Regions from separate parts of the Homo sapiens genome. Here region 1 is linked to region 2. Evidence: fine-mapped expression QTL. A gene starts in region 2. The other region holds a variant in brackets. All regions are shown on one strand. Distances are between the middles of the regions.

Evidence for each region. PIP is the estimated chance that this variant, and not a neighbour inherited with it, causes the effect.
Region 1: its variant is fine-mapped to the expression of SYNM in whole blood (INTERVAL, PIP 0.98).

What each region holds. Positions count from the first base shown.
Region 1 is chr15:99,122,201-99,130,526 of GRCh38, forward strand. SYNM (synemin) reads left to right here. Exons shown (of 4, transcript NM_145728.3): 3 at 4,522-4,592; 4 at 7,167-8,326. Among named protein-coding and RNA genes, the nearest start is that of TTC23-AS1, 13 kb to the right of the region's middle. The variant G/C (reference allele first, on the strand shown) is at 5,119.
Region 2 is chr15:99,101,345-99,109,670 of GRCh38, forward strand. SYNM (synemin) reads left to right here and starts at 3,736. Exons shown (of 4, transcript NM_145728.3): 1 at 3,736-4,665. The coding sequence starts at 3,856. It overlaps SYNM-AS1 (SYNM antisense RNA 1), which reads right to left and starts at 4,533. Exons shown (of 3, transcript NR_187219.1): 1 at 4,344-4,533. RefSeq lists silencers at 3,486-4,395, 4,676-4,845.

The DNA.
Region 1 (8,326 bases), 21 kb after region 2:
TCCCAGTTGGCAGAAGCAGCGTGTTTTAATGGAGAAAAATATGATGTCTCTGGTCTCCATGTAGACTGCTAATGTAGCAACACAGAGGACTCCTAATGTTTACATCTCATCATTCTAGTGATATTTCTGATTGCTCCATTATTTTTTAGGCCACCTGTACCTTTTCACGTGTCTATTCAAAGGAAAACGTTTCTTAGGGGTTTCCTCAAGGTTTTGCAGAAGTACATTTTGTTTTTTTAAGTTAGTTCCCACCTTTTTTTGGAAGACTTATAAAAATGTGTGAACACTGAGACTTATCTAGTTACTAGATAAAATACTTGAAGTGAATAAAAATCTTGTAGTTGTAAGAATAGAGTTGGGCATGGTGGCTCACGCCTGTAATCCTAGCACTTTGGGAGGCTGAGGCAGGTGGATCGTTTGAGCCCAGGAGTTGGAGACCAGCCTGGGCAACATGGTGAAACCCCATCTCTACAAACGATACAAAAACAACTATTTGGGTGTGGTGGCACGTGCCTGTAGTCCCAGCTACTTGGGAGGCTGAGGTGGGAGGATCACCTAAGCCCAGGAGGCAGAGATTGCCGTGAGCTGAGATGGCACCACTGCACTCCAGCCTGGGCGACAGAGCAAGATCCTGTCTCTACATAAATAAATAAATAGAATATATAATTGAAAGGATCGACCAGTACCTTTGGTTGCTGGTCAAATAAATGAGTTAACATTCAGTTAACTATAAAATACAGATGGTCCACAGTCCCTTCCCTTGTTGACTCATTTTAGTTAGCTGGAAATCAGTTTTCTTTGGAGGATGTAGAAGGAGGTGGGGACGACGTGATCGCTGATGTTTAGTGAGCTCTTACTCTGTGACAGCCATGGTTCTGAGAACTTTCTGCTTCTTGATTAATTCCTACTGCAAACCTGTGAGTTCTCTCCATTTCAGAAATAGGGAAACTGAGTCACAGTGGGTTTGAGCGGCCTGCCAGGGTCACAGAACTAGGAAGTGGCAGGTCTCAGATCTGAATCCAGACATCCTGACTCCAGAACTTTGTCCTGCGCTTGCTTCCTCTCTGTTTTATGAGTGATGTTTGTCTCTGTTGATTATCTGGTTTTTTTTTTTTTCAGTCTCTAGTATTGACCTAGAGATGGCTCTGGGATGTGGTTGAATACTGACCCCAGAAGCGATGCCCGGAAATGGCCCAGCACTGCCACGTTACCTCCTGTTATCCTTCCTGTGAAGCCGGTGGTCTCACCTTTCCCGTTCAGGTGGCGTTGCTGGTCATGGGAATGGAACTCCCCTCTGCCCCCTCCCTTCTGTTCCCTGGTCTTCCCGGTGACTGACCAGCCACGGGCCCGCATCTGGGGTGACCCAGGCAGTGCGTCCACTCTGTGTGGAGCTTGGCTTCCTCTGTCGCAGTGAGGAGTCGAGGGAGGCGGCTCTGCGGCTCCTTCTCCAGCTCCGGAGCCTCCCTTTCTTCTCTGCACTTCTCCACCTGCTGTTTGCTAGGAAGCACCCCGTGAATCACCCACAGGCCCCGGCCCCGGCCCCAGCAGGCTCCCGCACAGACACGGCTTCTGGGAACATCCTGACAGTGCCTCATTTATGGGGCTGCACAGAGCAGTGGCCTTGTGCCCACGGTGCTGAGTCACGGCGGATTGTTCAGCAATTCCATTAGGATAATCTATCCCAGACAGAGAGCCTTGCCTTGGAGCCTGCTCAGGACGCCGGGTGGCCCATTAGGGCCTGGCGCCTGGCCAGAGGCCACATGACAGCCGGCTTCTGCACTGTGGGTTTGTCCTGGGCTCCTTAATGAGGCCAGGGACTTGAGTTTTCTTGCACTTTTGCTTATTTTCCTGCATAAGGGGCCACCAACCTGTGGAGCTGTGTGAAATGCCCACAATAGCCCATGACTCAGGGGATTGGCATTTCTCACAGTCCCCGAGGCTTGGGGGCAGATTTCCTCCACCGCTCTCAAAATAACCAGGTTTGATTGCAGCCTCAGAGAACATGCTACCCATTTCTTAAAGTGGTACGAACCTATTCCTTAAAAATGTCCCTTGCAGAGCTTTAGAGGAAGTCGTGGTTTCTGGCTTCTCCTCAGAGTCTTGTTGATGCTTTCGCCGTGTAGTCCTGGGGCTGTGCGGAAGGAGGGTGGCTGCCATTGGGCTGGATGTGCTACCCAAAGCATGAACTCAATGGCCAGTGCCCAGCCGGGTGCTCACAGATAGTAAAGGTGACATGTGTCGCTGCCTGCTAGGATCCGGCCATTGAGAAGGGACACAGATGAGGGATAGCTCCTTCTCCAGCAGGAGCTTCTTACTTATAGGAGAGCTCTGCAGGGCCATTTTGGATGAAATCACCAAGAGAATTTATTTTCATTAATATGGCCCGGAGGGTCTATCTGTAGGATTTGTGCTTTCTGAAATTTGTGTGCAATACCATGGTCTCTGGCCTCACTGGGAGGCCTAGTGGTATCGCAGGGGAGGGGGCTGAGAGCTCAGGCTGCCTGGGTTTGCATTTTTCTCTTTACTGGTGAGCCGTATGCCCTTGACCAAGACGCTGTCTCTGCACCCCAGTCTTCTCACCTCTAGAGCGAGGATGCAGCCACAGGCCCTGTGTTGGGGGTGGCTTCGACGGTGTAAGTACATGAGTGACCACAATGCCTGGTGCTCAGTGTCAGCCAGGGATGGTAAAGGCCTAGAAAGGGGAAGCTGTGGGGCTGTATCTTGTCCCCTGAACCCAGCCAGAAGCCCCACGCAGGGCTGGTGCCTGTTTCGTGTGGGTCCTGAACTCTATGAAGGTTTGGTGATGCTTTGGAATTCTGGAAGAGGAGCAGATGCATTCCCTTTGGAGGGTGGGGAAGACGTATTTTTCCCTGGACAGCAACATACCTTCCGTTCTAACTTGGGCAGCTCAAGGGAGAGGCCCCGTGGTACCCGAGGTTCACAGCTGAGCCAGGCCGGGAGGATCTGAACTAGAACCTAGTCTTTCTCCCCACGCCCTGCCCTGGCTCCTCAGCTGCAGGACGCCACCCCTTCTGCTGCCGTCATCCTGGGGTGCAGAGCCTTGGGGCCTGGCTTTTACCCCGAATGTTCCTCTGATTATATAGACCTCAGAACTTTCTCAGCAGTGAAAGCTGTTTGCGTTCCTGGAACCTACAATGCTTGGTCATGAGGGCGTGGGATTAATGGGTTGGTGTCCTGTTTCCTGGCCTCTGCCCTGAGCGAAGGGCTGGGGCTCTGGACTCGGGCCTCTGCACATGCCCCGTCCACACACAAGCATCCCGCAGTCACTGCGCCGGGGCAGGCCCGCTGTGTGCGCCTTCGCGAGAGTGCCTCATGCCTCCTTTGCTTTCTTCCAGCTGCTCACAGGGCTCTCGTGTTCATGGGGCTCACCATGTTTCAACAGATGGAAATACAACTCAGTGCAGTTTGTCCAAGCTGCCAAGTCCCTGCTCGGGTGTGGGCACCCTGCTCCGTTTTTGTGCCCAGCTCTCAGCCATAAGATTGGCATTTCTCAGTGGGCTCTTGTTCTGGATGCCTTTTGCCGTGTGCAGTGTATTTCTTGGAACCGGAGTTAGTGACTTCACATGTTGCTCTAGCAACTGAGAAACTGTTGCACCCAGAGCTGCCAGCAGCCCAAGGGGTCTTCGCGAGTGACTGGCTGACAGGCATCCCGGTGCTAAGCCCCTCGCCAGCAGGCTGGGTCTGCTGGGACCACTCTCCTCAGCTCTGGGATCTGAAGCAGTAGACGTGAACAACCTAATGAAACTTCTATAATTTTAGAACTTTGGCGCAGACATAGTCAAAGAAATCACCTTGTTGGGTACTTCTCACCATTTTATTAAAGGAGATAACAGGATGCCAATTTGGATGAAGTGAGGCCCCTGGGGGTGGCATGGGGAGGGGCTACTGACGGGGGGCGCTTTAGCACTACCTTTTCCGTCTGCCTGCCTTCTACTTCTTTTTGTCGTCTCCAAGGTGACCCCCTGGAATGCAGTTTGAAACCACAGATGCAGTCTGGCTGCCTTATAAGTGTCAGTCCCTGCCGTCTCCTGGTCAGCCCTCTGCAAGCTGCCCCCACCAGCTGTGACTCCAGGAAGAACCCAGTGGGGGGTGTAGCTGCTCTGGGGCCCTCTAGCCTGGGGCCCACATCTCTCCAGTGCCCCCTTGCTCCTGCTCCTCTTCACCCTGGACTGAGAAAGCTTTCTAGAAGGGCTTGGCTCGCCAGTACTGCCGAAGCCCTGGCCTGGTCATTTTGTTCACTGGGCTAGTAGGGGTTGAGCGCCATGCTGGCTGCCAGGGATGTGGCGGTGAGCAGAGCAGGTGGCCTGGCCCAGGTCTGCTGAGGCTGGTGGGTGGGCTTGCCAGCCCTATGGTGCAGCCCTGCCCAAGTCTCCTCTTCAGGTAGAAGTCCTAAAACAGGTGACACTATGGTCATTGGCCGCATACCACGATACGTTTTATTAGAGGCACTTCTTACTCTTTCGTTTCCTAATGAATTATGTTTGTAAATTATTTTTACAGGGCCTTATTGGAAGGAGAAAGTAATCCAGAGATAGTGATCTGGGCTGAGCACGTTGAAAACATGCCGTCAGGTAAGTAAAAGCTAATGACTTGACTTAGCTTTAGGCATCTGAACTGTTTATTCTGTGGCTAGATAGTAAAGCACCATCATCGGGAAGAACGGGTTAGATATGGTGTTTAGATAACAGGAGTTCATCTCTCATTTAAGTACCAAATAGATTTTAGTTTAGTGTGACATAATTTCAATTATGTGAATGAGAATGTTTGGGAAGGTGCTTGATAAACTTGGTCCCTCTCTCGACAGGATGCAGGAGCGGAAGGGGCTAATGGCACTGGGCAGTGTGAGGGCGAGCAGGAGTGCACCTGAACTTGTGTTTCACACCCCTGGAAGGGACACTCCTTCCATTTCCAGACCAAGGGGTTATGGTTGTTACACCTGTAGAGGGAGGTATGGCCTTGGATGGCAGGCAGGCAGCACTCTGGAACCTGCTACCCTAACAGGAAGAGAGATGGGAATAGTTACATTGTTTACACCACCCTAGGTTGTTGTGAGCAGCTCAGGAAAATGTGTCCTGGTGCCTTGAAGACTACCTTATT[G/C]AGGCCAAGAGCCTCAGGACAGGGCCCATCCTTCCTATGGCTGCAGAACTGACATAAGATCATTAATGTTCATTAGAAAGATCCTAAGAAACTGAGGGATAACTTGTTTTTTAACCTTTTAAAGCCCTATAGAATCTTGAAGAGCTCTGGCTAAGCAAGTGTCGATTAAATTACGTATAGAATGTTGAGTTCACACCTTAGGCAGCAGCATGGTTTTAGTCTTCATTGTTTCTTTTAGGCAACTCATGGATTTGACATGTCACTGGGTTGAGAAGAATATTTGGGTTCTAGTCATCTATAACTGGAAGGGATCTGGTCTTAGACAACATGCAGCAAATTTTCTTTCTAATTTTGAGAGTAAGTTTGAAAAAAGCAAAGGTGTTCATGGAAGGGTAGGCATTGGTCAACCTGCCTGGCATCAGTTAACGTGTGACATCTATAAAACAAGAATTAACTCCCCAGATTTCAAGGTTTACTTAGTTACCTACATTTTTAACCTGTGGATACCTAAGTTTGGACATCCATCATGTAACCTAGAGAGAGGGGAGAAGGAAGAAAAGGGCCCAGGAGCTCCGAGGAAGACCAACAGTCTAAGCCAGGGCCTTGCTCAAATTTTCCCAGTTGTGATTTTGGGGCCGAGGGAGAGCACACAGAGGGGCTAACAGCTGTTGCTGTTAACTTGCTTCATTCATTCATTCATTCATTCATTCATTCATTATTTTTCAAGCTTCTTGAAGGAAATAGAGACTTAATATTTGTAAACTAAATTTATTCTGGCAATTACATATTATGCCAAAAGCTTTAGAATAAAAATTACTAGTTGGGAATTTTTATTAGACGTTGAGCTTCTAGATAGTTCTGTTCTGTTGAGTAAATATACAGATAAGTTCCTAAGTAGTGAACTTATCAATACTTGTTAGTGTGCTTGTGTTTCTTTTATAATATTGCATAAAATAATGTTGGCCGCTTGCCCGCTAGCCGGTGGACCTAAACCCAGTCTGTAATCTTCCATGTTTCTTGTTGAATCTTAACTGTAAATGAGATGGTCCCTGCACTATTGCCTGGGGGTTCATCTTCTGGGACTTCTCAGTTGGATCAGTAGGATCAGTTGACCTGAAAAGAGGAGTCTTGTAGAAAATGTCCTGGCCTGGTCTCTTTCCTGTATCTTGGGATCTGTGCAAAGGAGGCCTCTGGCCTTGGCTCCATAAGGGAGAGAGAAAGCCCTGTCCCCGCTGAGCCAGCTGGGGTGTGGGTAGACACCAGGGGCACTCTCGGGGTGGACGGTGCTCCTGGCTGCGTTCTAACCACCAGCTGCCATTCCTAAAGAGCGGTTTCCCCTGCTGGGGTGTGGACACCCCAAAGGGTAGCACTGTCTGCAAACAGCCTGGAGCAAAGCTGGAAGCCCTGAGGACTGCCTCCCAACTTCAGGATCATGACACTAAGACAGACCGGGGTGTTTCTGCACTGGCTCCTTTTCAGATAAGTGTTAAATGTAAAATAAAAGATCAGAAAGCTTAAAGAAGTTAAATTCTTTAATACTTGTTGGCCCAATATGGAAATCAGTGAAACAGAAGAGTATATTAAATAGTGGAGGATAATGCTATTTGGTGTTTAATAATGACACACTTTGTAATTACAGAGCTCTTCTCTGCTACAGTAAATTAAACTTACCTCAAAAAGCAGAAATTAATGATTTCAAAATATAAGATTGTGAAATTTCAGCCACAAAAACGAGCACCTCTGACCTCTCTGGGATATGCATTGTGCTTTATGATTAATGTTAAGATGAGTGAGTATTTTAATATCAGTAACTGGAGAAACGTGTTAGGCTGAAGTATTTGTAGTGCTACATTTTATTGTAACAGGATTTTGTAAACTGCCAAAAAATAATTTGGGCACCAAATATAACTTATCTTTATAATGAGCTTTCTGTGGTAACAGTGTATATTTATTATGATGGAATGGGATTTGGCCTGCAACAATGCTTGTAGATGGAAAAGGGTAATGATGACTGTCATTTTAATGAATGCTTTGTTCAATTTCTACAGAATTCAGAAACAAATCCTATCACTATACCGACTCACTACTACAGAGGGAAAATGAAAGGAATCTATTTTCAAGGCAGAAAGCACCTTTGGCAAGTTTCAATCACAGCTCGGCACTGTATTCTAACCTGTCAGGGCACCGTGGATCTCAGACGGGCACATCTATTGGAGGTGATGCCAGAAGAGGCTTCTTGGGCTCGGGATATTCTTCCTCGGCCACTACCCAGCAGGAAAACTCATACGGAAAAGCCGTCAGCAGTCAAACCAACGTCAGAACTTTCTCTCCAACCTATGGCCTTTTAAGAAATACTGAGGCTCAAGTGAAAACATTCCCTGACAGACCAAAAGCCGGAGATACAAGGGAGGTCCCCGTTTACATAGGTGAAGATTCCACAATTGCCCGCGAGTCGTACCGGGATCGCCGAGACAAGGTGGCAGCAGGTGCTTCGGAAAGCACACGGTCAAATGAGAGGACCGTCATTCTGGGAAAGAAAACAGAAGTGAAAGCCACGAGGGAGCAAGAAAGAAACAGACCAGAAACCATCCGAACAAAGCCAGAAGAGAAAATGTTCGATTCTAAAGAGAAGGCTTCCGAGGAGAGAAACCTAAGATGGGAAGAATTGACAAAGTTAGATAAGGAAGCGAGACAGAGAGAAAGCCAGCAGATGAAGGAGAAGGCTAAGGAGAAGGACTCACCGAAGGAGAAGAGCGTGCGAGAGAGAGAGGTGCCGATTAGTCTAGAAGTATCCCAGGACAGAAGAGCAGAGGTGTCCCCGAAAGGTTTGCAGACGCCTGTGAAGGATGCTGGTGGTGGGACCGGTAGAGAGGCAGAAGCAAGAGAGCTACGGTTCAGGTTGGGCACCAGTGATGCCACTGGTTCTCTGCAAGGCGATTCCATGACAGAAACCGTAGCAGAAAACATCGTTACCAGTATCCTGAAGCAGTTCACTCAGTCTCCAGAGACAGAAGCATCTGCTGATTCTTTTCCAGACACAAAAGTCACTTACGTGGACAGGAAAGAGCTTCCTGGGGAAAGGAAAACAAAGACTGAAATAGTTGTGGAGTCTAAACTGACTGAGGATGTTGATGTTTCCGATGAAGCTGGCCTGGACTACCTTTTAAGCAAGGATATTAAGGAAGTGGGGCTGAAAGGCAAGTCAGCC
Region 2 (8,326 bases):
ATTTTTGTTTACCTTAGCAAGAAAGACAAAGGTGAAATAACTGAGAAATTTCATTTATTCTTCATCATGATGTAACTTCTTTTTAAATTTTTTTTGTATTTTTAAATTTTGTTAAGACAGGATCTCACTCTGCTACCCAGGCTGGAGTGCAACGGCTCAATCATGGCTCACCAAAACCTCGATCTCCTGGGCTCAAGGAATCCTCTCACTTCAGCCTCCCAAGTAGCTGGGATTACAGGTGCATGCCACCATGCCCAGTTAATTTTTGTATTTTTTGTAGAGAGGGGGTTTTGCCATGTCCAGGCTGGTCTCGAACTCCTGAGCTCAAGTGCTCTGCATGCCTTGGCCTCCCAAAGTCTTGGTATTACGAGTGTAAGCCACCACGCCCAGCTATGAAGCAACTTCTTTCCTGATCTGGATACAAGTTTCGAGACACCGGACAAACATTTCCTCACGTTTTTGTGCTGTTCACAATTCAATAGCTAGACACACAACATACCACTAAATTTAATCTGCACTATTAACATACTCTCCACTGCTTTTAAAGGCTAGACAATCAACAAAACATCAAATCCACAAAAACAAGTCATTGGCTGATTTCTGTGTTGTAAATACTCAAGCTACCAACATGATGTCAGTGAATATGGAGTAGGGTAGTACACATTAAATGGCATTTCTATGGTGCAGGCACACTGCTCATTCATAACTTCAAGAGCAGATCATAGGAAAATGCAGTGAAATACTGAGGAAGTGATACGTTTTGAATATGTGTTTGCTCTTTTTGTATAATTAGTTGTAAGCTTCTATAATTAATTTTTAATAATGGCTGTGTTTAACAAGTGGTTCATAAAATTCTAAAAATTTAACAGTTGGCACTCACAAACCTGTGGGAGCCAACCGCAGTGCACCACTGCCAGGCTCCTGTGACTTCTGGCTTCCACAGCGGGAAGTATTGGCAAGAGAAGGGAGGCTTGGATGAAGGAAGAACTGGGTTTTCCTCCTCTTGCTCCCTCCTGGGATCCATTCTGCTCCTCTTTTCCAGCGCTCTGGGCTTCTCCAGGCTCAGCCAACACCCTAAGGCGCTAACGGCTTCTTAGCTTCTTGCTCTTGCTGGTCCCTGGTGCTTCCTCATCCCATCCATCCCCATCCCATCAATCATTCCCTTCCCTCTGAGTTTGCCTCTGCTTCCTGGCCAGACCCTGCCTGCTCAAGTCTGCTCTTGTGGTCACAACTCTAATACTTCTAGTCACTTCACCCCTCCGAGCTTCAGTGTTGTGAGGATTCAGTATGAAGCAGCAGGATATTATCCTGAAAGAGTAGCTGGGGGTACTTCCCCCCTCCCACCTCCCGGCCCTGCTAGTTCCTGATCCCCTATAACTCTTTCCCTACCGGGGCAGCTGCATGCTGGAGCAGTCAATTCCTCAGGGACAGGATTTACAGCAGAAATGGGGGAAAGGGTTTTGAGTTTCAAAGTCCAAGACCCTGAAGGGCACTGGGCAAAGAAAGACTAATGAGTCACTGCAAAGTGTCCTGCTGGGACTCACTGGTCCCTGAGAAGGCTCTCCCACCCTGCAGGGCTGCCCCCTGCCCAGCCAGGGGATGTGGGACAGCAGAACCCGTTAGCGTGGGGAGTCAAAGAGCTGAGAACAAACAGCTGCAGCGGAGTCCAGGCAACTGTGAGAGCCGCCCCCCCGCACCCCAATGTCCCAGAGGGGCCCAGGACCGGCAGGGTCTCCACATAGGTTTGGGCGATGACACCACAGCAGCTCTGGTGTTTGACAAGCAAAGGCCAGGTGTCAGTGTGCACCTGGGGGAATGGGAGGATGGACAATGATGGGGTGATGGGGGTCCAAATCCCCCTGTCCCACACCAAGGTGAATGAACCCAAGCACTGAATAAACCCACTTTCCACCCCCACTTAGTTTTAGCAGAAAAGGACAGGGAATTATTCATTGAAAGATATTAATTTCTACCACCTACAGAATGGGATCTCCAACATAGGGTCTCTAGAAAAAGGAAGGGCCACTTTCTGCCTTGCTTGTGATTGGAGGCTCATGGCTGTGACAAGGAGAGCACTAGAAGCTTTGTCAGAGGCCCTGGACCAGCTTGCTGAGTAGTCCACCTTTCCATGCCATCTGTAAAATACACTAACTGCTGGCCCTGCCATGAGGAGCCCTCTGGCCAGTGGATGACCGTCCAGGTCTCGCCCTGGGCACTTGTGTTGCCACAAGTTCAAGGGCACCCCAACCAAGGGTCAGCTGGTTTGTCCCTGTGAGCCTTAATGACACTTATACTGAGAACTGTCATTCATAAATAACTGCCATGAAAACTAATGAAATGCAAGTGTACAAAAAAGAGCTGTGGTTTCCATGGCAATTAAACTGAATACTTTCTTAGGGAAATGCTGGAAAGAAACAGCTGTCACATTAGGGGTGTGTGTGTGAGATTTGTAAAAGTTCGGGGAGATGTTAGATGTCTAGAAAGTTCTGTACTTGGAGCACTTTATGGTCTCTAAGTTTTCACTCCAAATGAAAGAAATTCGTTTTGGAAAATGTAATGTACTATGAGGGTAGCTTGTATAAGAAGGGCAACTGGGACTCCTGTCAACTGACATCAAGAGAAGTATTTTGCACATTAAAATACTGGTAAATGGATATATATTTATGTTTTAAGTTAAAAAGATTATTTAGGCTGGGCACGGTAGCTCACGCCAGTAATCCCAGGACTTTGGGAGGCCGAGGTGGGCGGATCACCTGAGGTCGTGAGTTCGAGACCAGCCTGACCAACATGGAGAAACCCCGTCTCTACCAAAAATACAAAAAAAAAAAAAAAAAAAAAAAAAAAAAATTAGCCAGGCGTGGTGGCGCTGGCCTGTAATCCCGGTTACTCGGGAGGCTGAGGCAGGAGAATCGCTTGAACCCGGGAGGCGGAGGCTGTGGTGAGCCGAGATCGTGCCATTGCACTCCAGCCTGGGCAACAAGAGCGACACTCTGTCTCAAAAAAAAAAAAAAAAAAATTAATGCACATGTATGTGTAATGTATATATATGAGATGAGGCCTCTCTCTGTTGCCCAGGCTGGAGCGCAGTGCCACAATCAGGTTCACTGCAGCCCTGAACTCCTGGGTTCGAGTAATCCTCCCGCCTCAGCCTCCCAAGCAGCGCGTGTGACACCACCACGCCAGGCTCCATATATATATATATATATATATATTTTTTTTTTTTTTTTTTTTTTGGTAGAGACAGGGTCTCTCTATGTTGCTCAGGCTGGTCTCGAACTCCTGGGCTCAAGCGAGCCTCCCACCTCGGCTTCCCAAAATGCTGGGATTATAGGCCTGAGCCACCGCGCCCGGCCCATATCGTTTTTTTAAAAATAGAAAAGCCACCAATCTCCAGGGCCTCGGGTAAGAAGTCGCTCCAAAATCGCCAGCACCACAGCAACTCAATAGGCTTCTATTTCCATCCACCAAGGCCAGGACACTCGTATGCTCCCGGACGCCCTCTCCGGCGTCCCTTCGCTGAGCCCGGCCTGGCTAGCCCGCCACCCCGCCCGCTGTTACCCGACTGCCCGCACCGACCACCTGCGGCCGCCAAGGTGCGGCAGGGGGCGCTGTGCGGCCGCAGAGGCCGCGCCGGGCCGCGCTCTGATTGGCTGGAGGCCGCGGCCCTCGCCCAGGCCGCCCGCCCAGTCTGCCCGCCCCGTCCGCTAAGTGCCTGGGCTCTCCCGCTCGCGTCCCAGTCTGCGGGCCTCCGGGGCAGCGGCGAGGCCGGAGCGTCGCGGCGGAGAGGACGAGACCGGGACAAGACCAGGGCAGGAGGGAGCCGGCCAGCCGCGAGAACCCCGCACGCCCGGCAAGATGCTGTCCTGGCGGCTGCAGACGGGCCCCGAGAAGGCCGAGCTCCAGGAGCTCAACGCCCGGCTCTATGACTACGTGTGTCGGGTGCGGGAGCTGGAGCGCGAAAACCTACTCCTGGAGGAGGAGCTGCGCGGCCGGCGCGGGCGAGAGGGCCTGTGGGCCGAGGGGCAGGCCCGCTGCGCCGAGGAGGCGCGCAGCTTGCGGCAGCAGCTGGACGAGCTGAGCTGGGCCACTGCGCTGGCGGAGGGCGAGCGGGACGCTCTGCGGCGCGAGCTGCGGGAGCTGCAGCGCCTGGATGCGGAGGAGCGCGCCGCCCGCGGCCGCCTGGACGCCGAGCTGGGTGCGCAGCAGCGCGAGCTGCAGGAGGCGCTGGGCGCGCGCGCCGCCCTCGAGGCGCTGCTGGGCCGGCTGCAGGCCGAGCGCCGAGGCCTCGACGCGGCCCACGAACGCGACGTGAGGGAGCTGCGCGCGCGCGCCGCCAGCCTTACCATGCATTTCCGCGCCCGCGCCACCGGCCCCGCCGCGCCGCCGCCACGCCTGCGGGAGGTGCACGACAGCTACGCACTGCTGGTGGCCGAGTCGTGGCGGGAGACGGTGCAGCTGTACGAGGACGAGGTGCGCGAGCTGGAGGAGGCGCTGCGGCGCGGCCAGGAGAGCAGACTCCAGGCGGAGGAAGAGACGCGGCTGTGCGCGCAGGAGGCAGAGGCGCTGCGGCGCGAGGCGCTCGGGTTGGAGCAGCTGCGCGCGCGGCTGGAGGACGCGCTGCTGCGGATGCGCGAGGAGTACGGGATACAGGCCGAGGAGCGGCAGGTCCGTGCGCGGGGATGGCGCGCTGACCCCATACCCGCTGCCGTCGCCCCAGCACCCTGCCCTTGACGGCGTGGGGCAGCGGCCCCTTCACCAGGGGCGCGGCGTCGCGGACCGGTAGGGCCCGCCCAGAGGGTGCCCGAATGGCATGGGGACCCGGACTCGGTCCGCTGGTCCATCGACTCAGCGGGCGAGCGCGGGGCGGCAGGTCCTAGCGGATAGCCCCGTCCTCGTCATGGGGTTAGGTGGCAGCTGCTTTAACTCTTGACAAGCGTGACTGGGCGCATCCTGATAGGCCACCCTGTTAGCTCTAGGTTTTCCTTCCATTTTCCGTGCTCCGTAGACTCAGTAGACCCAGATCTAAGAGTCAACCGAGAAACCTCTCTCACTTGCAGAAGTGACGGCTTATGGTAGCCCCGCTGTCTATAGCGCTCCTCAGGGGAAAACTCAAATTAATTTCCAAAACGGTTTTTATTTTGCCAATATGATTTCCCAGTTGGAAGCCGCAGTTGTGGCTCTCTGGGCGGCTGCCTTGTTTGATCTTGGGAGGGGCAGCAACCCTCATGCAGAACAGAGCTTGATCGAAGATGTTTTGCTCACAGCACACGCTGACGTCAGATCTCTGCGTAGTGTAAAAGTTGTGGGAAAGTGGGGCCCTTTGGCAGGATGTTATTACAAGTGCAGAGTGATATAAACAGTTACTATTTCAGGGAAGCAAACCCTCTGACACCGGCGGGGTGACACCTGTGGCTGATGTAAACTATGCCCAGTCCAGCCCTAGCGTTTGGCCCTCGCCCTGCCCTGCCTCAGCCAGAATTGGAAATATTCCCAAATCACACTATCAGTAGTTCTCAAAAGGACAGATGGAAATAACATCTGCACAATTTCACAAATATTTTAAGAGTACAGTTTGCAGCTGTGAGTTAAAGATTTGAGACTGACTTTTAAAAATTAGAAGTGAGAGGAACATGGGGGTTGTCATATGGAATGACTGCGGTGATGTGACAGGTATCCACAGGTGATGAGTAAATACCTGTTGATTCTCCCTGGGTCCCCAGCACTGCCCTAGACTTTCAGTATGCAAAGAGCTACAGGCTAGATGGGAAATCATAGAATGCAATATGGTACTACATTGGGATTTAATCTTTTGAGTTGTGGGTTTTGTTTGGCTTCCGCCTCATAACTTTTCAAAGTGTTCTCTTGGGGCTTTGCCATAGCTAGAGCAGGGACAGGGACTGACCCAGTGTGTACCGATTTCCACTTGTGAGCACTTGTGTCCCTTTGCAATGACAGTGGCCAGGGGTCTGAGTTCCACAGGTCCTATACTCGTTGTTGAGTGAAAGTTAAAAAGTGCCTTAATGTGGCATTCATGGAGATTTGACCAGTGGTTATTTTGACTCTCCAAAAAGGAGTATCTGTCAAACCTACTGCCCAGGGAACCCCTTTGTAGGGAACCCTCGCTACCAACTCAGGGGTCTGTGCTGTGCAGGCAGGTTTAGAAAATGCTGCTTTGAGCCACGCTGTGTGGACCAAATCGTCACCATGCGTTCACAGCCACAGCTCACTTGGCACATTTCAGACCTTCAAATTCTGGTTCCAGTGTTCTTTCTTAGCGGCAAAGCCCTTTTCCCCACTAATGAAACCTTCAGTGGAACTCGTAATGTGAGCCATATGAAAGCAGAGTTCCCCTGACTGGAGGAGACATGGGGACTTGAAGTGCAGTTAGAATCCTGTGCAGCCCTCCTTTGACACAGGGACTCCAGGGCCCACCGGGGAAGTGCTTTTCCTGAGGTCATACCTGCCCTCAGAGTGAGGCTGGGACCCCACTCTCCGTTTGCCATCCAGTGATACTTCTCTCTTGTTGGAATTTGCTGCTTTTTCCTAAAAGCAAAGAGCGAGGAAAATGTCAATAAGGACCTGGTTTTTTTTTTTGTTTTTTGTTTTGTTTTTTTTTTGGTTTTGGTTTTGGTTTTGGTTTTGGTTTTTTGAGACGGAGTCTTGCTCTGTCGCCCAGGCTGGAGTGCAGTGGCTGATCTCGGCACACCGCAACATCCGCTTCCTGGGCTCAAGTGATTCTCGTGCCTCAGCCTCCCGAGTAGCTGGGAGTACAGGATCCCACCACCCCGCCTGGCTAATTTTTGTATTTTTAGTAGATACAGGGTTTCACCATGTTGGCCAGCCTGGTCTCAAACTCCTGACCTCAAGTGATCCACCGGCCGTGGCCTCCCACAGTGCTGAAATTACAGGTGTGAGCCATGTGCCCGGCCATTTTTTTTTTCCAGTTCCAATTTGCAGAGGTTTTACTGCACTAAGTGTTACCAGTCACTACCTTGTCCATATACTGAATCTTCCCTCAGTTAACTTAAGTCAACTCCATTTCAAATTGCATTCCAGAAGATTCAGCACCAATCACAGAGATGCTAGGAAGTATGTGAAAGAGGGAGTATGGATGATTTAACCCCAAGCCTGTAATTTTTTTCGGGTTCTGTAGAAGCTTACTATGGGGAGAGTGAAAAAATCCTAAAAATGGGTTGAATTAGTATATGGTAATAAATATCTTATTACTAAGAGCCTTTAGCAAGTGCTTCGTGTGTGCCAGGTACCACAGATGCCCTTCACAAATATTCACTCTCAGTGCCCACACCAGTGTTACGAAGTGGGTACTAATATAAGCTCCATTTTACAGAGGAGGAAGCTGAGGCACATAAGTCACCTGATTAGTAAGTAGTTAAGCCAGGATTCAACTCAGGCTCTAGTGCCTGAGCAACTGACCGCTGGGCGTCCGTTTCTCTCTTCTGTCTGTTTGATCAGAGAGAAACCTTTAACCAGTATTCTTGCATTCATAGCATAATGATAATTGCTCTTCCTAAGGGCTAGCCCGAGGTACTCTGCTGATTTCAAGTCCTAAAATGCTTTTAGACCCCTCCAGCTGGCTGAATAGTTTTGGCATTAAAACTATTTTCTTTCATTTCTTTTTTTCTGTGTTCCATGTGCTTTAATGCCCCCCTCCCCTGGAGGCAGGAGCTGGAGGCAGCAGAGGGTGCTGCCACATTGTGCCCAGCTCTCCCTGCCTCTGGCTATAGCTTCTGTGGCTCAAGGGGGAAGATGCTTGCTAGGATTCTACTTGAGGGGAAACTGGTCCTTCCCAGATGGCCCATGCGCCTTCACTGTATGAGGCGGTAGTCATTGGCCTGCCCCAGGCCTGGCCTCAGATTTGCCCGAGAAGAGTTTGCTGAACTGACATCCAAGTTCCCAAATGTGATCTAGATCACTTGAAGCCTGAGTGACACACCCAGGCTGCAGGAGGGGGCTTCAGAAAACACTTGAAGACATTTGCGATAAAGTGGAGACCAGCTTCACCCTGCAAACACGGAGATTTTTGCTTATGAAAGTGAGCCCTTAGCTGCTGAGGCTGACTGGAAAAGGCTTCCAAGCCCCCAAAACATGATTGAATGAAAGCTTTTTGTAGATGGGAAGGTGGGGTGGGATTAGGATGGGATTAGCTAAGGGTCAGTGCTCTGCAGCTGTCCTACCTGGCCCTGAATTCTGACTCTGCCGCTCTTTGGGCAGGTTACGTTCCTTAACCTGTCTGCAATTCAGTTTCCCCATTTGTGAAACGAGGTACTGGAAGTAGCTCCCAGGGTGTGTACAACTGGTTCATTCG